Homo sapiens: one gene and its partners. Each later gene encodes a partner of the first gene's protein in a complex. Each region holds a gene or a part of one and is shown in the gene's direction. Other genes may lie near its edges. The genes, in order: PPIH, SNRPF, SNRPD3, SNRNP40, PRPF3, LSM4 and PRPF31.

Evidence for each region.
Region 2: PPIH (region 1) and SNRPF share a complex: the UniProt entries of both Homo sapiens proteins name them as parts of the U4/U6-U5 tri-snRNP complex.
Region 3: PPIH (region 1) and SNRPD3 share a complex: the UniProt entries of both Homo sapiens proteins name them as parts of the U4/U6-U5 tri-snRNP complex.
Region 4: PPIH (region 1) and SNRNP40 share a complex: the UniProt entries of both Homo sapiens proteins name them as parts of the U4/U6-U5 tri-snRNP complex.
Region 5: PPIH (region 1) and PRPF3 share a complex: the UniProt entries of both Homo sapiens proteins name them as parts of the U4/U6-U5 tri-snRNP complex.
Region 6: PPIH (region 1) and LSM4 share a complex: the UniProt entries of both Homo sapiens proteins name them as parts of the U4/U6-U5 tri-snRNP complex.
Region 7: PPIH (region 1) and PRPF31 share a complex: the UniProt entries of both Homo sapiens proteins name them as parts of the U4/U6-U5 tri-snRNP complex.

What each region holds. Positions count from the first base shown.
Region 1 is NC_000001.11:42,671,923-42,675,422, forward strand, and holds part of PPIH (peptidyl-prolyl cis-trans isomerase H), read left to right. Parts: intron 1-3,365; exon of another isoform or gene 3,366-3,500. UniProt on the Homo sapiens protein: PPIase that catalyzes the cis-trans isomerization of proline imidic peptide bonds in oligopeptides and may therefore assist protein folding. Participates in pre-mRNA splicing.
Region 2 is NC_000012.12:95,861,952-95,864,295, forward strand, and holds part of SNRPF (small nuclear ribonucleoprotein F), read left to right. Parts: intron 1-2,344. UniProt on the Homo sapiens protein: Plays a role in pre-mRNA splicing as a core component of the spliceosomal U1, U2, U4 and U5 small nuclear ribonucleoproteins (snRNPs), the building blocks of the spliceosome.
Region 3 is NC_000022.11:24,562,499-24,565,998, forward strand, and holds part of SNRPD3 (small nuclear ribonucleoprotein Sm D3), read left to right. Parts: intron 1-3,500. UniProt on the Homo sapiens protein: Plays a role in pre-mRNA splicing as a core component of the spliceosomal U1, U2, U4 and U5 small nuclear ribonucleoproteins (snRNPs), the building blocks of the spliceosome.
Region 4 is NC_000001.11:31,283,289-31,286,788, reverse strand, and holds part of SNRNP40 (U5 small nuclear ribonucleoprotein 40 kDa protein), read left to right. Parts: intron 1-3,500. UniProt on the Homo sapiens protein: Required for pre-mRNA splicing as component of the activated spliceosome. Component of the U5 small nuclear ribonucleoprotein (snRNP) complex and the U4/U6-U5 tri-snRNP complex, building blocks of the spliceosome.
Region 5 is NC_000001.11:150,338,533-150,342,032, forward strand, and holds part of PRPF3 (U4/U6 small nuclear ribonucleoprotein Prp3), read left to right. Parts: intron 1-1,865; coding exon 1,866-1,945; intron 1,946-3,497; coding exon of another isoform or gene 3,498-3,500. UniProt on the Homo sapiens protein: Plays a role in pre-mRNA splicing as component of the U4/U6-U5 tri-snRNP complex that is involved in spliceosome assembly, and as component of the precatalytic spliceosome (spliceosome B complex).
Region 6 is NC_000019.10:18,313,077-18,316,576, reverse strand, and holds part of LSM4 (U6 snRNA-associated Sm-like protein LSm4), read left to right. Parts: exon of another isoform or gene 1-511; coding exon 512-553; exon of another isoform or gene 554-908; intron 909-3,500. UniProt on the Homo sapiens protein: Plays a role in pre-mRNA splicing as component of the U4/U6-U5 tri-snRNP complex that is involved in spliceosome assembly, and as component of the precatalytic spliceosome (spliceosome B complex).
Region 7 is NC_000019.10:54,122,254-54,125,753, forward strand, and holds part of PRPF31 (U4/U6 small nuclear ribonucleoprotein Prp31), read left to right. Parts: exon of another isoform or gene 1-153; intron 154-238; exon of another isoform or gene 239-243; coding exon 244-341; exon of another isoform or gene 342-389; intron 390-1,200; coding exon 1,201-1,307; intron 1,308-1,495; coding exon 1,496-1,665; intron 1,666-2,245; coding exon 2,246-2,403; intron 2,404-3,500. UniProt on the Homo sapiens protein: Involved in pre-mRNA splicing as component of the spliceosome. Required for the assembly of the U4/U5/U6 tri-snRNP complex, one of the building blocks of the spliceosome.

The sequences.
Region 1 (3,500 bases):
GCCCAGGCTAGAGTGCAGTGGCGCGATCTCGGCTCACTGCAGACTCTGCCTCCCAGGTTCAAGCAATTCTCCTGCCTCAGCCTCCCGAGTAGCTGGGATTACAGGTGCCCACCACCGCACCCAGCTAATTTTTGTATTTTTTAGTAGAGACAGGGTTTCACCATCTTGGCCAGGCTGGTCTCAAACTCCTGACCTCATGATCCATCCGCCTCGGACTCCCAAAGTGCTGGGATTACAGGCATAAGCCACCATGCCTGGCCGGGCAGTATTTCTTATACTTTAACGTTCATACGGATCTCCAGGAGATTTGTTATAAAATAGTGGTTCTGACTCAGTGGGTTTGGATGGGGACTGAGATTTTGCATTTCTAATCAGCTCTCAGGTGATGCTGATGCAGACTGTGAGGCAAGTCAATAGGGGATAAGAGTCTATCTTTTAATTGAGAACTTGCCATATTCCAAAAAAAAAAAGACCAAGAGGAAGTACTCTCTTGGTGGCACTAGTCCAGCAGGAATCCATTGCATTCACATCAAGGTATCACCTAATCCTGCATTTGAGGCCTTGTGCCCAGGCACTGGACATATGCAGTGAAACAGCTAAGAAGGAGATAGAAGACGGGTCACTTGATCAATTCTACCTCCCTATGGAGCACTTCTTTCCAGAACCTTTGTGTTTTGCCTTCCTAGGTTCTGACTTTGGTTTTAGTGAAAATGAAGTTTTGTGTACAATTTTTTTTTTTTTTAAGACAGAATCTCACTCCGTTGCCCAGGCTGGAGTGCAGTGGCACGATCTCAGCTCACTGCAACCTCCGCCTCCCAGGTTCAAGCGATTCTCATGCCTCAGCCTCCCGAATAGCAGGGATCACAGGCATGCTCCACCACGTCTGGCTAATTTTTTTGTATTTTTAGTAGAGACAGGGTTTCACCAAGTTAGCCAGGCTCGTCTCAAACTCCTGATCTCATGTGATCTGCCCGCCTTGACTTCCCAAAGTACTGGGATTACAGGCGTGAGCCACCATGCCTGGTCTGTACAACTTTAGTTATAGAAACCTTGGTTTTATCTCAGTGAGTTCTGGGAGAGTTTTTTTTTTTAGACAGGGTCTTACTCTGTCACCCAGGCTGGAGTGCAGTGGCGCAGTCACAGCTCACTGCAGCCTCGACCTCCCTGGCTCAAGTGTTCCTCCCACCTCAGCCTCCTTAGTAGGTGGGATTATAGGCGTGCAGCACCACACCCAGCTAACTTTTTAGAGATGGGGTTTCACCATGTTGTCCAGGCCGGTCTCAAACTCCTGGCTTCAAGCGATCTTCCCACCTCAGCCTCCCAAAGTGCTGGAATTACAGGCATGAACCACCGTGCCCAGCCCTTGGAAAACTTTTTATGATGAATTTGGTTATGTATAGCATAAATGAACCTCTACACTCAGGATTCTCCTGCTGTAGTCTGAATGGGTTGTTTGCTACTTACATGGACATGGGAGAGGGTGGCACCTCTCTTTTGAAAGCCCGAGTTCTGGCAGCTCTGCTAGTCTGATATGCTTACCCTCTTCCCTGTGATCCTCAAACCTGGTACCAGTACCAAATGGTAGAGAGCTTTCCTTAATTCATTGTTGCCTAGATTCTCCAACAGGTAATAATCATTTTGGGGCACTCGTTAAACCTACGAATTCCTAGATCCCTTCCCTGGAGTATTTGATTGAGTGGCTTTGGGGTGGGACCAGGATGTTATGTTTGTAACAAGTATCTCACATGCTTCTTAATAGAGAAGTGTGGGAAACACTACTTTAGTTAGTGGTGGGATGACTGTCTTTTATTTTAATATTTGGATCTTAGGAAAAAATACGGAATTAGCACAATACATCATTTTACAGTTATTACAGCTTATAGTGAGGCAATATTGAAGTTCAAATAGTGATTAGCTTAAAAAATAAATTGTACCTGTGGATGATAGATATTGTAACAGTTGTGAAGATGCTATTTGAATGACTAAGGTTTAGGAAACACTGTGTTTCATTCTAGAATTACCTATAGATGCGAGACATTCCCGTAGGGGAAGATTAGGAAATATGTGTTGGTGGCAGTTGGGCTGGTCCTCTATTCATTCCACAACTAAGCGCTGATGAATTAAGATAGTTCCCATGCTGCATATGAGGCTACAGATTTGAAAAGTCAGTTCCATCCTTCAAGGAACTCAGTCTCTTGGGAGAACTGACAATTACAGTACAATAAAGCCCTGTATTGGAGGTTTTAGAACAAGGTGAGGAAAGCATAAATGCCCGGATCTTCCCAGAGTGGTTGAGTAGACTACAGAAGAGATGATGCTTCAGTTTAGTACAAGAAAGAATATAACTTGTCAGGTGGCTAAAACTGGGCAGGGCATTCCAGGCAGAGGGAACAGCCTATGCAAAGTCACAAAGGCAGGAAACAGCAGGAAGTGTAGAGGAAGCTGCAAATAATTCAATATGACTGAAGCAGGAAGATATGAAAAGCAAATGGTGAGAAGGTTGGAGAGAGGCCAGGGCCAGTAGTGAAAGCCAGTGCCAAGTTTAGCAGTTCATATGTTATTCTGAGGGCAGAGGCTGACTTTCAGGCATGAAGTAATTTTTCCCTTTTGGGGAAGGAGTCCACTGTGCTCCTGAGATTCTCAAAAGGGGCACTGACCCTCCAAAAAAGAATCAGGCCAATATGAACCACTTAAGGATTTTCAGCAGAATACTGTAGATGAATTTTCATGTTCAGAAGATGATTCTAGCAGCATTGTGGAGGATGGGCTGGAGGCCAGTGAGGAGTCTACTGCAGTAGTAGTCCAGGCAAGAGAAAAGAGGTTTTACATGAAAATATGGGTCTGGGGAACACTGGAGATTTGGCAGCAAATATTTATGTGCCTGCTGGGCATGTGACACTGTATGTTCCCTGTCCTGAAACTCAGAAGCTCTGCCAGCTGAAAAGGCCAGGAGTGGAGAGAATGTCTGGCTCCAGTCCATTCCAGTCCAGTACAAAGGCAAAGCTGCTTGCATTGCAGCCAAGTCTTACACACGTAGAGGTTCCATTCTCTTCAGTGGAATACTATACAGCCTTAACAAAATAAAGAGGTAGATCTGGATGTGTTGGCAAGATTTCTAAGGTAAGTTAAGTGACAGTCAAGATGTAGTAATTTATGTAAGCATGTTACTGTTTATTTTGAATGACTTTCAGGAATCTCTGCAGTGATATATAGCAGACTGTGGATAATACTTCTGCAGAGTAGAGATAGCAAAGAGACTTTTCAGTTGCCTTATTTAAGCTTGAATTTTCTACCTTGAACATGTATCTTGTAATAGAAATACATACTGTTTATATGTAGTGTTAACTAATCCTAAATCCTCCCAGCACTTCCCAGGAGCCTGCCCACAGCTGTGGCTAACATCAGGTGTGAATCCATTGCTGATCCCTCCACCTCCTCTTCCAGGTCTAAGCCCAGACAGTGGGTGCTCCCACAGCACTTGGTTCATCTCTCCACTGTGG
Region 2 (2,344 bases), on another chromosome or scaffold:
AAATTTTTTGCCCATTAAACAATAATTTTCCATTAAACAATAATTTTACAATTAAACATTAAACAATAATTTTCCATTCCTTCCTCCACCTAACTAACCCCTGGTAACCACTAGTCTACATGTCTATGAATTTGACCGTGCATAATACCTCATGTAAGTGGAATTGTGTATTATCCTTTTGTGTCTGGCTTGTTTGACTTAACGTAGTGTATTATTCAAGGTTCATCCATGTTGTAGCATGTGTCAGAATTTCCTTTTTATGACTGAATAATATTCCATTATATGGATATACCACATTCTAATCCATTTGCCTCTTGGTGGACACTGGGTTGCTTCCCTCTTTGGACTGTAGTAAATAATGCTGCTGTGAACATGGGTATACGAATGTCTGTTCCAGTCACTGCTTTCAGCTCTTTGGGGTATATACCCAGAAGTGGAATTACTGGATTACTGGTAATTCTATGTTTAATTTTTTAAGGAGGCCAAGCGTGGTGGCTCATGCCTGTAATCCCAGCACTTTGGGAGGCTGAGGCAGCAGATTGCTTGAGCCCAGGAGTTTGAGACCAGCCTGGGCAACATAGTGAAACTGCATCTCTACAAAAAAAATACAAAAACTAGCTAGGCATGATGGTGTGGGCAGCTATATTCCCAGCTACTCAGGAAGCTGAGTTGGGAGGATTACCTGAGCCTGGGGAGGTTGAAGCTGCAGTGAGCTGTGATCACTGCACTCTAGCCTGGATGACAGAGAAATTTTTTTTTTTCTTTTGAGTAACTGTCACACTATTTTCCACAGCAGCTACGTGGTTTTACATACCCACCAGCAATGCACAACGGTTCCAGTTTCTCCACATCCTCACCAACACTTGTTATTTTCTATGGGTGTTTATAAAATAGTTATTCTAATGGGTGTGAAGTGGTATCTTATTGTGGTTTTGATTTGCATTTGGCTAATGATGTTGAGCACCTTTTCATGTGTTTATTGGCCATTTGTTTATCTTTGGAGAAATGCCTGTTCATGTCTTTTGCACATTTAAAAAATTAGTTTGGGATTTTTTGTTGTTTTTTTAATGGTAGTAGTTTCCAGGCAGGTTTTTAAAGGCTATCAAGACAGGTGGTCAATCCAATCATGAATCCAAGGATTCCATACTTGTAAGCAGAGTACTAAAAGGAGTACTTAAGTAGGCAGAGAGCTATGATTTTCCTTAACTTAGGCAATTACCACCTGAGCACATGACATTAAGGCCCCCAAAGCATAGTTTGAGTGTGGAAAATTCCTTAAACAGGAGTCATTTACCAAGACCATAGAAAAATCTGGGAAGTATATGAATTGTGATGAAAATATTCTGGAAGTAGTGGTGATAGTTGCACAGGTTTTTGAATATACTGAAAACCACTGAATTGTACACTTTAAAAGGGTGAATTTTATGCTATGGAAATTAACATCTCAATAATAAAAGAATTACCACTTAATATTTGTTTTAGAATTAATATAGCTTGCTAGTGACCCTGCTAGAGTTGCAAAATGTCTGAGTAACCAACCACTTTGAGTAGTCAACCATATTGATACCAGTGTTTGAATTTGTTCACTCAGCAAATATTTATTGAATTCCATTATGTGCCTGGCACTGTGAATATAGCATTGAACAAAACAAAGTCCCTGCCCTCAACAGTTTATGGTTTAGTGGTGGGAGGTGGTAATATAATGTGATAATAGGCATGATAGATGCCATCCATGAAGAAAAGGGGGAAGACAGTATGTGCAATATTATATAGAGTAGCCTCTCTGAGGAGGCGAATTCTGGAAGATACCAGAATTAGTGTACAACTCAGTTGAGTATCTGGGGAAAAGCATCCCAGTTTGAGGGAACAGCAAGTACAAAGGCCCTGTGGCAGAAGCATGCTTGGTGTGTTCAAGGCACAGCAAAAAGGCCAGAGCAGATTGAGTTAAGGGACGAATGACAGAAAGTTAGGTTAAAATGGCGGCCATAGAGAGCCTGTTAAGTGATGGTGAAGAACATGATAGAAAGTATTTGGAACATTATTGTGTAATTTAGAAATGTTAAATGTTGTAATTACTTTTTACAAAAAATTAGTTGCTCTTAATACATTATTTCTTATAGCTGTTACATACAAACTGTCTCAACAACCTCGTATATTTCAGACAAAACTATATCATCTGGATAATGGAGATTACTTTTTGTTGTCTATAAGAAAGGGAGTAACATCCAGTAGTAGTGTTCATTACCATGTTTTTCATGCCTTATGAAACATCCTATTTTAATCCTTATTGTTAAGCCCTATTTTTCTTTTCCTTTTCCACGTGCCTAATTGTGAAGGAAACCTC
Region 3 (3,500 bases), on another chromosome or scaffold:
GCGCCACTGCACTCCAGCCTGGGCGACAGAGCAAGACTCCATCTCCAAAAATAAAAAATATATTATCTGGATGTGATGGCTTATGCCTGTAGTCCCAGCTACTCCATAGGCTGAGGCAAAAAGGATCACTTGAGCCCACCCAGCAGTTCAGGCTGCATTAAGCTCTGGTCGCACCACTGCACTCCAGCCTGGGTGACAGAGCAAGACCCTATCTCTAAAATTAAAAAAATTCTATGGCAGGATAAAAGTAGATGCATAGATCATGGTGCAGGTAAGCTGGGGTAGAATGTAAAATGAAGCCAAGCAGTCAGTATCCAGAAATGTAAACCTGAATCTCTCTGTACATTGAATAAAGGTATATTCCAGTGTAAGATTAAGCAGGGAAGATCATCAGTTCCAAAATGCATAGTGTTCTTAAGTTAAAATAGCAATTGTGTGGATTTCCCTGGCACTCAGATACAGGAGACACTATTAGATGATATCCTCGACAACATCCCCATACAAAATACCCTTTTATGGTCCCTCAAGTAGTTTTAAAGTATCCTGTTATCTTAGCACTGTTTTTGACATTTGAAAATGCAAAATATGGCCAGGCACATTGGCTCATGCCTGTAATCCCAGCACTTTGGGAGGCTGGGCCAGGGGGATCACTTGATCCCAAGAGTTTGGGACCACCCTGGGCAACACAGTGAGACCCTGTCTCATATATGTGTGTGTGTGTGTGTGTGTGTGTGTGTGTGTGTGTATGTGTGTATGTATGTATATATGTATGTATATATATGTGTGTGTGTGTGTATATATATATATATTTTTTTTTTTAAAGGAAGAAGAGGAAATATGTGTATGTGAAACTCAGGATGAGGTCCCTGAAATGGTGCTTATCGGGTCAGAGGGTGTGCATCTGAGGTTAAGCTGGGAAGGCAGGGAGCTTTTGTTCTCCTTCTCATTCCGACAGCTGCAAGCCAAGCACTGGTGGCCAGTGCTGCAGGATAGGGCATCAGCTGCAGGATATGGCATGTTGGTCAAAATGCTGTTGGCATAAGTGAGAAAAATAACAATACTCCAAAATATGTCCCCAGTTTTATAAAAATGGACCCAAATTATAAATGATACAAGCAAATACAGAGAGTAATGGTCAAACCCATTTCACTACATTCAAAATGACTTAATTCTTAGAAGTTTTGGTGGGAGAATGTGGTGTAGAGCTCTGCACAAGCAGACATTGTGCTTTTGGGGCTTCAACATGACCACCCAATCACTGATGGGACTGTTTGAAATCTGTTTTGTTGGCTTTGGCATATAATAGCCATCTTTGGAAAACTGGTCTCTGTATGGAATATGGTCTTGTGTCACTGTATAAAAATGAGAACCCAAAAGAAGCTCTCACATGATTGGGTCAGAAAATTGCCCATAACTATTGCTAGGAAAGTTTTTGAAATCTCTGAATTCAATGTAATTGAATTTCTTTAGACACCTAGCCCTCTAGGTTGAAGGAAAACCAGTTTTTTAAACTTATCGTATACTTTTTTTTTCCTGTACTGTTTGTGTGTGGATTGCATTCATCATGCTCCTCTACCCCATAATACTTTTGTATTTCCTAAGAACAAAGATAGGTAGATGGCCTTAGTTGGTATTCGTATTATAGCAGTGGCATCCAAGCACCTCTGCCTTTGTGTATGTGTGAAATTGTCCTAAAGAATGCATTTCTGGTGTATTGACAGGCCTGAGACACCCCAACACACCTTCACAGTCCTGGAGCTAGCTTTCTCCATCTTGGCCCCAGGTATCTAAGAAAGTCCCACCACTTTGTGCTACAAAGATTCTCTCTCTCCCCCTCAGGATGTCATTTCAGTTGGGTACCTGGCTTATACCATATGTGTTTCATTGTGGCTGTTGAGGAAAGTTGATTAAACTGGGTGTTCCTGCCTGGAGTTGATTAGGATCTGGTTCACTCAAAAGTTGCTGCCTTGGGCTTGTGATACAAACACAGGTCAGGCTTATTAGCAAGCTCTAGCAGGCATGTGTGCAGTGAGACTGTGGGGTTTTGTCCACAGCAAGCTGTTCTTAGCCAGTGCTACAGGGAAAGCGAGAGCAGTAGTGAGCCTGGTTGTTAGGGTTAAAATAGGAGTCAGAGGACACTGGACTCTCCTGCTTCAGCCAGGACATAGTTCATTTATGGAAATGCCTAGATTAAGTCTTGTCGGACTTATGCAACAGCTTCTGTCAGGAAAGGAGTGAGATGTGCCCCTGTGCTGGAGGGAGTGTGGCTTAGCAGTGGCACAGCTCCCAAAACACATTTTAGCTGTCAATCAGATTTAGCATGTACTGAGTCTCTATTATGTATTAGGCAATAGAGACAGCATTTAGACATACTTTGCCTTGTTCATTTTTTTTTTTTTTTTTTTGACAGGGTCTTACTCTGTTGCCCAGGCTGGAATGCAGTGTCATAATCATAGCTCACTGCAGCCTTGAACTCCTGGGCTCCAGCCATCCTCCCACCTCAGCCTCCCAAGTAGCTGGGACCACAGGCATGCACCACCACACCTGGCTAATTGTTAAAAATTTTTGTAGAGATAGGATCTTGTTACATTTCCCAGGCTGGTCTCAAACTCCTGACCTCAAGCAGTCCTCCCACCTTGGCCTCCCAAAGTGCTGGGATTACAGACATGAACCACTGTACCTGGCCTGATTTGCTTTTTAACAATTTCAGGAAATGTGCAGTGGTTAAGAGTGTGAGTTAGAAAGAACTGGGTTCAAACTCCAGCCAGGCCATGTAAGCGTGGTGTGACCTCAAGCAGGAGAATAGAGGGAAAGGGCATGGGTTTCTGGGGACAGATCTGCCTCTGAATGGCTATGTCACTTCATCTCTTTACCTTGTAGGATTTTGTGGGGTAACATGAGCTGCCGTGGGGAAATCACCTGGGCCAGCACTTGATGTCTAATAAGTGCTCAGTAACTGTTGGCTTTGTTGTCTTGTATTTTCAAAACTCAGCTTTGTAGTTGAGGGAACGGAGGCTCAGGGAAGCCTGGAGATATACCTAGGGTTACACTTCTGACAAATGGCAGAGCTGGATCTCACCTATAGGTCTTTAGGCCTATTTTGTGTCTTCTACAGAGTCATGAGTGTGGCACAGTCCCCAAAACACGTTTTTTGTTTGTTTGGTTTGTTTTTTGTTTTTTGAGACGGCGTCTTGCTCTGTTGCCCAGGCTGGAATACAGTGGCGTGATTTTGGCTCACTGCAACCTCTACCTCCCGGGTTCAAGTGATTCTCCTGCCTCAGCCTCCCGAGTAGGTGGGACTACAGGCACCTGCCACCACACCCGGCTAATTTTTGTATTTTTAGTAGAGCCAGGGTTTCACCGTGTTTGCCAGACTGGTCTCAGGTGATCCACCCACCTCGGCCTCCCAAAGTGCTGGGATTACAGGCATGAGCCACCGCGCCCAGCCCCAAAACACATTTTAATTGTCAGTCAGATTCAGGTGAGCCTGAGTTGTATCC
Region 4 (3,500 bases), about 11 Mb from region 1:
GGGCAGGGCAGTACATTGTAGGGAGTAGTCAGAGAGTGAGGAAGGCATCCATACAACACAGGGTAGGTAACCAGTGTGGGGAATTTGAGGGTGAGGGAGGGGCAGCAGCCCAACAGTGCCCTAATGGGGTGAAAGGGTCGCCTGTACGTGAAGCAGTACGGGGAGAATGTGGATGTCAAAGCCTGAACTGAGGGCATCCACACAGGGTAGAAATGATTTGGTGTAGGGAGTCTGAGACTGAGCAAGATGATGACTGCATGCTTGGAGAAGTGCAGACTGGAAAAGAGCCGTAGCAGAGTGATGAGGGTGTTCACACAGAGGAATGACCCAAGTTGGTTAAGGAAGAGTCACACATGGCTTCAACCAAGAATGGGAATCACAATTCAAGTAGGGAAGGGTGGAAGAGAATATGGGAAACTGGTTGCATGCAGGAAGCATAATCAAATAAGTGAATATATTGAATTTAATGGGAGGCTGATTTCTCTGTCCAAGAACAGAGTTACCAGTACAAAAGAGAAGACTAAAATGAATCTTGTGTGAGGTATAAGTGTGAACTCACAATATTCAATATAGAAACATATAGAAAAAAATAGACATAAATGTGTGAGTGTGTGTGTGTGTGTACCTAAATGTACATATATTGCCTGACTGTCCACTGAAAAGGTTTAGGAGCAACAAGACCCCAATAGCAATAGCACCCCTTACTGCACAGGTACTGTTTTCCATTAAAAGGAACCAGGGCTCCTATTTCAGCCCAGGGGCAGTGAAAGTACAAGATAAGCCTTGTACTTGTCAAGGCTTATTTTGTCAAAAGAACATCCTAACTAAATTATCAAATCGACCTAATTAGTAATGGGACAAGACAAAATCATGAACCATTTGCTAGGATACAACAAAGATGCAGCATCATTTCTGTGATATTCCTACCAAAGATGTATAACTTAAATCTAATCAAGAGGAAACATAAGACAAACCTAAATTGGGGATGATGACCTGTAACTTTCAGAAGTGTTGAGTTCATAAAACTCAAGGAAAGTTTGAGAGAGTCTTGCAGACTGGAGTCTAAATTTAACATATGATTCCAGACTGAATCCTTGTGCAATAAGACATTTGGGATAACTGGTAAAACTTGAGTGGGATTTGAGGATAAAATGGTGATAGTGTATCTGTATTTCTTGATTTTGATGGTTATGTTGAGATGATGTAGGAGAACATCTTTGTAGGACAGACACTATTTAGGAGTGATAAGGGGCCAGGTGCAGTGGCTTATGCCTGTAATCCTAGCACTTTGGGAGGCCTAGGCAGGTGGATCACTTGAGGTCGGGAGTTTGAAACCAGCCTGGCCAACTTGAAGAAACCCTGTCTCTACTAAAAATACAAAAAAGCCGGGCATGGTGGCAGATGCCTGTAATACCAGCTACTCAGGAGGCTGAGGAAGAATTGCTTGAACCCGGGAGGTGGAGGTTGCAGTGAGCGGAGATCACGCCACTGCACTCCAGAATGAGCAACAGACAGAGTGAGACTCCCATCTCAAAAAAAAAAAAAAGGTGATAAGGCATTGGGTAAGCAACTTACTCTCAAATGATTTAGACCAAAAAAAGTGTTCTTTTTACTTCCAAGTTTTCTATAAATTTATGATTGCTTCAAAGTAAAATAATTATTAAAAGTGGTAGTTATCTGGAACTAAAATTCTAAATTATTTTAAACAAACTTTGACTACCATGACTTTTAGGAGAAAGACAAAGATAGATTTGACCTGAGTGAAGTATCTATTGAGACAAAGATTATAGTACAGTTTATAAAATATATAGGATCTAAATTATTAAGGCCTTGAATTCCAGGTTAAGAAGTTTGGACTTGATTCTGTAACCACAGGAGTTGGGGGAGTAGGAGATGTTGGGCATGTAGGAGAGGAGTGAAGCGTTCTTTTTAGACCATTTATCTGAGTAATGAACTAATTTTTAGTTCGTATTTACATGAACAAAGAAGAAACTACTTTTCATCCTAAACCATGAGAATTGGGAGGAAGAGGCATCTTGGCACAGATCCTACTCAGACTCTCCTTGTTGACTACAGGATTGAAGTTAAGCCTATGACCTTCCCTAAAGTTCCATGGCTGATTCCTTTCTTTTTGATGCCAGCCCTTTAAAACTTGGAACAGTCATCCCAAAGTCTCTTTCTTCTGAATGAAACGACCCATACTTTTAAATCATTTACTTGTGGTTCATCTTCTCAAGTGTGTCATTCATTTATTGAAACATCTCTGAGCCCTCTCTGTGTTATCCACGCTTTAAAAAAGTAGAGCTATAAGGGTTTGTTTGTTTAAGAGATGGGGTCTTGGCCGGGTGCAGTGGCTCACGCCTGTAATCCCACCACTTTGGGAGGCCAAGGTGGGTGGATCACCTGAGGTCAGGAGTTCGAGACCAGCCTGGCCAACATGGTGAAACCCCCGTCTCTTCTAAAAATAGAAAAATTAGCTGGGCGTGGTGGCGCATGCCTGTAATCCCAGCTATCCAGGAGGCTAAAGCAGGAGAATTGCTGGAACACGGAAGCAGAGGTTGCAGTGAGCCGAGATGCCGCCACTCTCACCCAGGCTGGAGTACAGATCCGCAATCACGGCTCACTGCAGCCTCAACCTCTCTGGCCCAAGCGATCCTCCCATCTCAGCCTCCCAAGTAGCTGGGACTATAGGCATATACCACCACACCCAACTTTTTGTTTTTATTTTGTAGAGATGAGGAATCACCATGTTGCTCAGGCTGGTCGCTAACTCTGGGCTAAAGCCATCCTCCTGGCCTCGGCCTCCGAAAGTGCTGGGGTTACAGGCATGAGCCACCATACCTGGCCCTCTAAGAATTTTATAGTTTTAGCTCTTACATTTAGGTCCTTGATCCATGTTGAATTAATTTTTGTGTATCATGTTAGGCAGGGGCTTACCTTCATTCTTTGGCATGTGGTTAGCCAGTTGTCTTAGCACAATTTGTTGAGAAGACTACTTTTTCCTTCTATATGGACCATAGTTACTTGCTTCTTTGCATGCCTTATATTTTGTTGAAAACTAGGCATTTAAATATTATAGCGTGGTGACTCTGGAAATTAGGTCCCCAGAGCTGCTTATTGTAGTTGTTTGTTTAGTGACTTTCTGTGGGTTGGGGTAAGGTGAGAGTGGTTGGTTGGTTGGTTTTTGAGACGAAGTCTCGCTCTGTAGCCCAGGCTGGAGTGCAGTAGTGCGATCTTGGCTCACTGCAACCTCCACTCCCCGGGTTCAAGTGATTCTTGCACCTCAGCTTCCTGAGTAGCTGGGGTTACAGGGGCACACCACCATGACCAGCTAATTTTTGTATTTTTAGTAGAAACAAGGTTTTACCATGTTAGCCACGCTGGTCTTGAACTCCTGACCTCAAGTGATCCATCCACCTCGGCCTCCCAAAATGCTGGGATTACAGGTGTAAGCCACCATGCCCGGCCTGTTTAGTGAATTTTTGAACTAATTTTGTAAA
Region 5 (3,500 bases), about 110 Mb from region 1:
CTCTGTCACCCAGGCTGGAGTGCAGTGGCACGATCTCAGCTCACTGCAACCTCCACCTCCCGGGTTCAAGAGATTCTCCTTGAATTCTCCTTGAATCTCAGCCCCTCAAGTAGCTGGGACTACAGGTGTGTGCCACCATGCCCATCTGCTTTTTGTATTTTTGATAGAGACAGGGTTTTGCCATGTTGGCCAGGCTGGTCTCGAACTCCTGACCTCAGGTGATCCGCCCACCTTAGCCTCCCAAAGTGCTGGGATTACAGGCGTGAGCCACTGCACCTGGCCAAGCTCCTGCATTTGTAAGTGATGTATCATATATATAGGCTGTTTTTAGCTTTTGGGGTTAATGTAGGATAACCAGGGACACAATCTACAAAAGCAAAGTCTAGAATTCTTTTTGCTCTGTTACACATTGTTGCCTGTTTTTAGCATTATTTTCCTTAATTACATTCTTTTGCTACGTATTATAGGTGTTTACATTTCCTAAAGATCTCATTGTGATAGAGCAAGGATTATTAGTTGGTAGGTGAGATAATAGTAAATATAGCATATAAGGCTGGGCTCGGTGGCTGACACCTGTTATTCCAGCACTTTGGGAGGCTGAGGGCTGAAGGATTGCTTGAGCCCAGGAGTTAAAGACCAGCTTGGGCAATATGGTGAGACCTCGTTTCTACAAAGATTAAAAAAAAAAAAAAAGTAGCTGGGCATGGTGGCTTGTGCCTGTAGTCCTGGCTACCCAGGAGGCTGATGTGAGAGAATCACTTGAGCCCAGGAGGGTCTGTGCTGCAGTCAGCTATGATCATGACCACTGCACTCTATCCTGGACAACAGGGTGAAACTCTGTCTCAAAAAAAAAAAGGATATAAGACACATTTGAAGAGCTTTAAATATATCTGCTCCATCCATTTTTTTTTTTTTTTTCCTGAGACGGAGTTTCGCTCTTGTTGCCCAGGCTGGAGTGCAGTGGAGCAATCTTGGTTCACCACAGCCTCCGCCTCCTGGGTTCAAGTGATTCTCCTGCCTCAGCCTCCCAAGTAGCTGAGATTATAGGCATGCACCACCACGCCTGGCTAATTTTTGGTGTTTTTAGTAGAGACGAGGTTTCTCCATGTTGGTCAGGCTGGTCCCAAATTCCCGACCTCAGGTGATCCACCCGCCTCAGCCTCCCAAAGGGCTGGGATTACAGGCATGAGCCACCACGCCTGGCGTTTTTTTTTTTTTTTTTTTTTTTTAAGACAGAGTCTCACTCTGTTGCACAATCTCGGCTCGCTGCAACCTCTGTCTCCTGGGTTGAAGCAGTTCTTCTAGCTCAGCCTCATAAGTATCCGGGACTACAGGCAAATACCACCACACCTGGCCAGTTTTTATATTTTTAGTAGACAAGAGTTTCACTATTTGGCCAAACTGGTCTCAAACTCCTGACCTCAGGTGATCCACCTGCCTTCATCTCCCAAAGTGCTGGGATTATAGGCATAAGCCACATCACCTGGCCCTGCTCCATCATTCTGATACATGGCTTTAGTAGATTTTGTCTTAGCCTTTCGTTGCCCCTTCTTTGTCAGCCACTGTTCCAGGGACTTATTGTCACTAATGAGAGAACATAGCGTCTGTCAGCTGTGGCATGGTAGAAAAAAGGTTGAGAATGATTGCTGTGGAGAGTGTGTTCAACCATAGAGGGACTCAGTTTTCTCATCATGAAAATTATGTGTAATTTAACTATATATTTTAGGTACCTAAATGCTATTTTAGGTATATCAAGCACAAGAACCCATTATAGAGAGTGGGTTTTTTCATTGTATTTCTGAGACTCCTCTCTTAGAATCATCTCTACCCGCATATCGTGTTTTCTTTTCTTCCTACAATTTTAGTACAGAGGAAAATCCCAAGAGAGAAGATTATTTTGGAATCACAAATCTTGTTGAACATCCAGCCCAGCTCAATCCTCCAGGTAATGTATAGATTCCTGAATCAAGTCTCTAGAGCAGCATTACCCATTGGAAATTTATACAGTGAGGAACATGTTCTGTATCTATGCTGTTCAATACAATAGCCACTACCCATGTGTAATTCTTTTTTTTAATTCAGTTTTTTTCCTGACAATAGTTTGTTGTTTGACCAGTGAACATACATTTTAAGTGCATATTCCTGTGCTTAGAATTTCATGAGACAGCCAAGCATGGTGGCTCATGCCTCTAATCCAAACACTTTCGGAGGCCAAGGCAGGAGGATTGCTTGAGGCCAAGAATTCAAGACCAGTCTGGGCAACACAGTGAGACCCATCTCAAGGAAAAAAAATTTGGCTGGGTATGGTGGCTTATGCCTGTAATCACTGCACTTTGGGAGGCTGAGGTGGGCAGATTGCTTGAGCTCAGGAGTTCGAGATCTAGGCAACATGGCAAAACCCCATCTCTACAAAAAATAAAAAATCAGCCGGGCATGGTGGTGTGCATCTGTAGTCCCAGCCTCTTGGGAGGCTGAGGTGTGGAGGATGGCTTGAGCCTGGGAGGTGGAAGTTGCAGTGAGCTGAGATGGTGCTGCTGCACTCCAGCCTGGATGATACTGCCAGACCTTGTCTCAAAAAAAAAAAAAAAAAAAAAAGAAGAAAGAAAGAAAGAAAAAAACCCAAAATTTCATGAAGCTTTACATTTACAGTTCCCTGGTTGTTCCTAGGAAAGAGCCCTCAGCTTGCTCCTTTTATAGAACCACATGTTGTTGTGGCATCCACAGCTAAATGCAAATGCAAGAGCCAAACTCTTGGGTTGGTGTGTTATTAGATGCGATATGCTCCACTACCCACTGTGAGGGATGCTAATTCCAAAGGGCTTTTTGTTAGTTTCCCAAAGTTGAAACTGGGAAACAAAGTTGCTTCTATTTTTTTTTTTTTTTTTTTTTTGAGGAGGAGTTTCGCTCTTGTGGTCCAGGCTGCAGTGCAACGGCATGATCTCAGCTCACCACAACCTCTGCCTCCTGGGTTCAAGCAATTCTCCTGCCTCAGCCTCCTGAGTAGCTGGGATTACAGGCATGTGCCACCACGCCCAGCTAATTTTGTATTTTTAGTAGAGACAGGGTTTCACCATGTTTGGTCAGGCTGGTCTTGAACTCCTGACCTCAGGTGATCTGCCAGCCTTGGCCTCCCAAAGTGCTGGGATTATAGGTGTGAGCCACCGCGCCCGGCCTTTTTTTTTTTTTTGAGTTGGAGTTTCGCTTTTGTCACCCAGGCTGGAGTGCAATGGCACTATCTCCGTTCACTGCAACTTTCACCCCCCTGGGTTGAAGCTATTCTCCGGCCTTAGCCTCCGGAGTAGCTTGGATTATAGGTGCCTGCCACCACACCTGGCTAGTTTTTGAACTTTTAGTAGAGACAGGGTTTTGCCATGTTGGTCATGCTTGTCTTGAACTCCTGACCTCAAGTGATCTGCCCACCTAGGCTTCCCAAAGTGCTGGGTTTACCGGCGTGAGCCACCGCACCTGGCCCTAATTTTGTTTTCTACATTTGCCAGGTA
Region 6 (3,500 bases), on another chromosome or scaffold:
CTGGAGTTTGCGACTAGCCTGGCCAACATGGTGAAACCCCGCCTTTATTAAAAATACAAAAATTTGCTGGGTGTGGTGACGCATGCCTGTTGTCCCCAGCTGCTTGGGAGGCTGAGGCAAGCTGCTTGTGAGGCTTGAACACGGGAGGTGGAGGTTGCAGTGAGCCATGATCATGCCACTGCACTCCAGCCTGGGTGACAGAGCGAGACTCCGTCTCAAAAAAAAAAAAAAAAAAAAAATTGACCAGAGTGTTCAGCACCAAGAGCAGGTGGTGGCCACCTACGGGAGTAGGGAGGGTGTGTGAGGCTTTTCTTCCTAATCTGAGAGGCAGGTGTGTGTTCCAGGGCTGGGCAGAGTGAGGAAATGGCATTTCCAGTGGGGGGTGATTGACACGCACTCCTGTGCCCCCTCAACCGCACCGCACCATCTATGAGTCATGGGTGGGACTCAAGACCAGAGCTCCCAGGCGCTGGTCAAACAGACAAATCATGTGGCTTTATTTGCCTTTCAGCTTCCCTTGTCACTGCTGAAGACGGCTCAGAATCACCCCATGGTGAGTACTCAGTGGTCTGGGAAAGCCTGTTTGAGAGGGGGCCAGCCTCAGCACAGGGGCGGTGGCTGAGCAGACGGCTTCCTGGCCTGCCTGTCCACCAGCATGGCAGTTTGCTCTCTTCTCCCTCCCCAGGAGTGTCCACACTCCTGTCATTTCTGCTGCTTGTAAGAGTAATACATACATACTTACTAAAAATTTAATGGGCCAGTTGCAGTGGCTCGCGCCTGTAATCCCAGCACTTTGGGAGGCCAAGACAGGAGGATCGCTTGAGCTCAGGAGTTCGAGATCAGCCTGGGCAAGAAGAAAAACTTAAAATTAGCCAGATGAGGTGGTGTGTGCCTATAGTCACAGCTACTCAGGAGACTGAGGCAAGAGGATCGACTGATCCCAGGAGTTTGAGGCTGCAGTGAGCTATGATCATACCACTGCGCTCCAGTCTGAGCGACAGAGTGAAACCTTGTCTCTAGAAAAAGAAAATTAATGAGGTGGAAGGATCACTTGAGCCCAGGAGTTCAAATCCAACCTGGGCAATATAGCAAGACCCTGTCACTTAAAAAAATAAAAAGAACTTCAGGTTGGGCATGGTGGCTCAGGCCTATAATTCCAGCACTTTGGGAGGCTGAGGCTAGAGGATGGCTTCAGCCCAGGAGTTCAGAGACCAGTCTAGGCAACATGGAGAAACCACGTCTCTCCATAAAATATAAAAATTAGCTGGGTGTAGTGGCGTGCACCTGTAGTTCCAGTTAGTTGGGAGCCTAAGGCAGGAGGATCACCTGAGCCTGAGGCGTTTGAGGTTGCAGGTCGCTGGGTGACAGTGAAACCCTGTCTCCAAAAAATGATAATATTGGCCGGGCGTGGTGGCTCTATGCCTGTAATCCCAGCACTTTGGGAGGCCGAGGCGGGCAGATCAGGAGATCGAGACCATCCTGGCTAACACGGTGAAACCCCGTCTCTACTAAAAATACAAAAAAATTAGCCGGGCGTGATGGCGGGCACCTGCAGTCCCAGCTACTTGGAAGGCAGAGGCAGGAGAATGGCGTGAACCCGGGAGGCGGAGCTTGCAGTGAGCTGAGATCGCGCCACTGCACTCCAGCCTGGGTGACAGAGCGAGACTCCATCTCAAAAAAAAAAGGATAATATTACATACTAACACTTCAGTTAAAGTGCACAATTTAGTGGCATTTGGTGCAGTCACAGGTTGTGTAACCACCACCTTTATCTAGGCCGGAACATTTCCGTCTCCACAAAAGGAAAGCCCATTTCCATCAGCAGTCACTTCCCAGCCCCAGTCCCTGATGAGCATGAGGCAGCTGCCGTCTCTGTGGGGTTGCCTATTCCGGATATTTCCCATGCATGCGAACGGAGACCATGAGGCCTTTCGAGCCTGGTGGTTGTCACTCAGCAACGTGTTTTTGAGGTTCATCCACCCTGTGGCCTGTGTCAGTGCCTCATTCCTTATAGCCAGACGATACTCCGTGGAGCGGATACTTACCACTTTTTTTTTTTTGAGAGGGAGTCTAGCTCTGTCGCCCAGCCTGGAGTGATCTGGGCTCACTGCAAGCTCCGCCTCCTGGTTTCACGCCATTTTCCTGCCTCAGCCTCCTGAGGAGCTGGGACTACAGGTACACGCCACCACGCCTGGCTAATTTTTTTTGTATTTTTTTTTTAGTAGAGACGGGGTTTCACTGTGTTAGCCAGGATGGTCTCGATCTCATGACCTCGTGATCCGCCCGCCTCGGCCTCCCAAAGTGCTGGGATTACAGGCTCACGCCCGGCCTACATTTTGTTTATGTGTTTGTCTGCTGATAGGCATCTGGGCTCTTTCCCCTTTTTGGCTATTGCGAACAGTGTCACTGTGAACATTCACGCACACATTTTTGTATGGTTGCCTGTGTTCATTTCTCTTGGGCAGATGCCTAAGTTGAGTCATTTAAAAATCTCAGCCCTGGTGGGAGGCCAAGGCGGGTGGATCACCTGAGGTCAGGAGTTCAAGACCAGCCTGGCCAACATGGTGAAATCCCCGTCTCTACTAAAAAATTAGCTGGGCGTGATGGCAGGCGCCTGTAATCCCAGCTACTTGGGAGGTTGAGGCAGGAGAATCACTTGAACCCGGGAGGCAGAAGTTGCAGTGAGCTGAGATCACACCATTGCACTCCAGTCTGAGCAACAACAGAGAAACTTCCATCTCAAAAGAAAATCTCAGGCTTGGACTGAGTGTGGTGGCTAATGCCTATAATCCCAGCACCCCGGGAGGCCAAGACAGGAGGATCACTTGAGCCCAGGAGTTTGGGACCAGTCTGGGCAACAGTGAGACCCCACTTCTACAAAAGGAAAAGAAATTAACCACATGTGGTAGTGTGCGCTTATAGTCTCAGCTACTAGGGAAACTGAGGTGGGAGGATGGCTTGAGCCCAGGAGGTTGAGGCTGTAGTGAGCCATGATCACGATACTGCACTCCAGCCTGGGCAACAGAGCAAGACCCTGTCTCATAAAAGACACCAAAAAATATCAGTCTTTTCCTAACAGCAGCATATCCTCAGAATGATCTGCTACTTATCTTTGTTCTCAAAACATACCAAAATAGATGAGTAATTATTGCAGTAAAAAACAGCATTTGTGGAACACTGAAGCCCAAATATCTGGTGTTGTGGGGGTGCCTGCCAGGACCAGCCCAGCTGTGCCCACCTGGCCCCCAGCCACCCTGGATCAGTGGCCACCATCACCATTGTCTCACTTATTCCTTTAAACATTTCTGTGTTTCTTAGTTTTTTGTTTTTTTAAGACCAAGTGGCACTCTGTTGCTCAGGCTGGAGTGCAGTGGTGCGATCTCAGCTCACTGCAACCTCCCCCTATCTCAACTCACTGCAACCTCCGCCTCCTGGGTTCAAACAGTTCTCCTGCCTCAGGCTCCCGAGTAGCTGGGACTACAGGCATGCACCACCATGCC
Region 7 (3,500 bases), on another chromosome or scaffold:
AGCAAGGCGCTTCTTTTCTTTAAGAACATGTCACTGCAGCTCACGTTTTACAGACCAGAACTAATTCCCCTGGTCACACCTAGCGGTAAGGACGGCTGAGAAAGGCTGTATGCTGGTGCCCGTGTGCCAGGCCACAAGCCAGGGCTTCAGTTACTAAAGGAAGAAGGGGACATGGGTGTTAGGGCCAACCAGCAGAGTCTACCTTCCATCTCACCCGACAACCTCCTGTCCCGTTTACCCTAGACATCATCCATAAGTTCATCCGGGATAAGTACTCAAAGAGATTCCCTGAACTGGAGTCCTTGGTCCCCAATGCACTGGATTACATCCGCACGGTCAAGGTGAGCGCAGAGAAGGTGGGGTGCTTCTGCTGGCGTGAAGGGGCAGGCGGGGCTCACTCTCGGACCCCCTCCCAGAGGCCTGAGGGTCTGGAGACGATGGAGAGGAGTGGACGAGGGCTCAGTGGTCTGCTCTGCCCAGCGTGGGAGGGACGGAGCCTGGACAGGACTTTCTCAGGGCTCCCCTCCAACCCCAGTCTCCCGAGAGGGCTTCCCCGCTGGCCTGACCCACGCTGCTCCCGCTGTGGTTGGAGCCGGTGGCATTGGAGTTGACATCCGAAGGTTGACACAGGGCAGGCACACGGAGATTTGGGGGAGAGAGACGTCTAAGTGCAGAGAGCTGGAGAGGGAACAAGTGGGGAGGAAGTGAGGCGGGGAAGGAGGGGACGGGGAAGAGGTCGGATCACGTCCAGCCTTTGGGTCTTAGGAGAAAGCCAAGGAAGGGTTTCGGAAAAGAGGGGCAGGTGTGCGTGAGGGCGGGGAGAGGAGGAGGTCCCCACGCATGTCCAGGAAAGGATTAGGATGGCGGTGGGGAAGCCCCTGCAGGGAAGCGAGGCCGCGGATTTGCACTCCGACTTGACGCAGGCCAGAGGCTTGTGAGGCCACAGTCTTTCCAGACGCCACTCTGCCCGGGCTCCGTTTCCAGGTCAGCGAAAGCAGGGCAGATGGTGTGGATGCTTGACGTGGTGGAGGCAGGAATGGTGTGGATGCTTCAGGCGGTGGAGGCAGGAGAGGCCCCCAGTGCAGAGACCCTGACTGTCCCAGTGTCCCTAAGAAGAGACCTGAGGAGGTGCTGAGCAAGAGAGGTTCTCGAGCCTTCCTGAGTTCCCGAGCCTCCCCTATCTTCTCTGCTCGCCCCCAGGAGCTGGGCAACAGCCTGGACAAGTGCAAGAACAATGAGAACCTGCAGCAGATCCTCACCAATGCCACCATCATGGTCGTCAGCGTCACCGCCTCCACCACCCAGGGGTATGTCCGCTTCGAGGGAGGCGCCGGGCCCTAATGGGATTGGGGATTAGGCTGGAGCTACACACGCAGGTGTACACACGCACACACACATACACACATGCACACACACACACAGAACCGAGAGGGCTGGGGCTGGGCACACCAGGCAGGCGGGAGACCCAGGAGGCTGGGCCCACCCGCCCCTGCAGGCAGCAGCTGTCGGAGGAGGAGCTGGAGCGGCTGGAGGAGGCCTGCGACATGGCGCTGGAGCTGAACGCCTCCAAGCACCGCATCTACGAGTATGTGGAGTCCCGGATGTCCTTCATCGCACCCAACCTGTCCATCATTATCGGGGCATCCACGGCCGCCAAGATCATGGGTGAGTCCCCGGGCTGGGTCCCATGGAGCGGGGGTCTGCTGACACTGTGACCTTGGGAAAGCTACATCCTTTTCTGTAGAATGGGGGCTTTGGCACCTGGACCTCAGCACCCCGTCTCCCTGGACATCACAGAGGTCAGCCAGCCTGGCACACAGCAAAGCCTCATCTGTGGGAAAAACACTCACCCACAGCTCCTTCTCCCTCCCCTGTGCCGGAAACCCAGAGATGACCACACCCAGGCCCTGTTGTCAGGGAGCTCCTGGTTTGGTGAAAATGGTTCCAAAACACAGCCATCCCTGGAACGGCGTTAGTGTGGCTTAGCACAAACGTGGTGGTCAGCTTCCTGTTGGGGGCCTCCTCCCTGCACCCCCAGGCCAGCTGCCCTCCCTCTCTGAGCCTCCTTTGCATCTGCCCCTTGCGGAATGGGCCAGGTCGCCCGCCTGGCAGGGCCATCGAGGAATCCAACCAGAACTTCATGTAAAGGTGCCCAGCACACGTCGAGCCCCCAGGCAGATTTACTCACCCCCACCTCTCTGCTTTCTTCTGACCGCCCCCCCTTCCTCCCTCCCTCCCACCGCAGGTGTGGCCGGCGGCCTGACCAACCTCTCCAAGATGCCCGCCTGCAACATCATGCTGCTCGGGGCCCAGCGCAAGACGCTGTCGGGCTTCTCGTCTACCTCAGTGCTGCCCCACACCGGCTACATCTACCACAGTGACATCGTGCAGTCCCTGCCACCGGTGAGCCCACTGCGTCATGGCCCCTCCCCCGGCCCCCCTGGAGCCTTCCGCTGTGCCCAGACAGCCTGAGCAGCCACCCACCATCTGGCCCAGCTGACGGTAGCACTCAGGAGCTGGGAACAGGGTGGCATGGGACGTGAGAGCCAGGGCTCTGCAGCAGACCAGCTCCAGCACCCACCAGTCAGGTGACTGTGGGCAAGAGGCATGAGCGCCCTGTGCCTCAGTCTCCTCCCCTATCAAATGGGAGCACAGCGCCTGCTTCATGAGTTGGGACGAGGGCTCAGTGCACATGAAGCACTTACAGTTCAGGCCTAGCTCACGACAAGCAGCGTCGGGTTAGCGTGCAACTGCTCCGAAGACCACCCTCAGGTTTGACCATTCACTAGAAAGACTCACAGAATCCACTGAGGGCTGCACATCAGCCATGGGGAGAGACACACAGGAGGGGCAGGAGAGGTCACCAACCTCGGAGCTTCCCGGGTCCTCTCCCTGCAGTCGGGACACATCACCATCCCAGCATCGACGCCTGACAGCACACACACAGGCCCGCTAGCCTGGCGGGGCGCAGTGGCTCGTGCCTGTCATCCCAGCACTTTGGGAGGCCGAGGCGGGCAGATCACCTGAGGTCAGGTGTTCGAGACCAGCCTGGCCAACATGGTGAAACCCCATCTCTACCAAAAATACAAAAAACTAGCTGGGTATAGTGGCACACACTTATAATCCCAGCTACTTGGGAGGCTGAGGCAGGAGAATCGCTTGAACCCAGGAGGTGGAGGTTGCAGTGAGCTAAGATCATACCACTGCCCTCCAGCCTGGGTGACAGAGTGAGACTCTGTCTCAAAAAAAAAAAAAAACAAGCAAGACAGGTTCTGGGACAGACAGGCCTGGGTCCAGACCCTGCTCTGTCCAACTGTGGCGAGTTACCTCAGGCTCACGGCCCTGTGCCCTGCCTGGCCTCCCCCAGGGATGGGGAGAACAATAGCACTGATGGCCAAGGCTGGGCAGGCACTTCCTGGCCCCACCCCCCAGCCCTGTGTGGGGTTTTTTTTGTGGTCTTTTCTGCGACCCTTTAGGTCAGGCACTGCTACTGGAACACA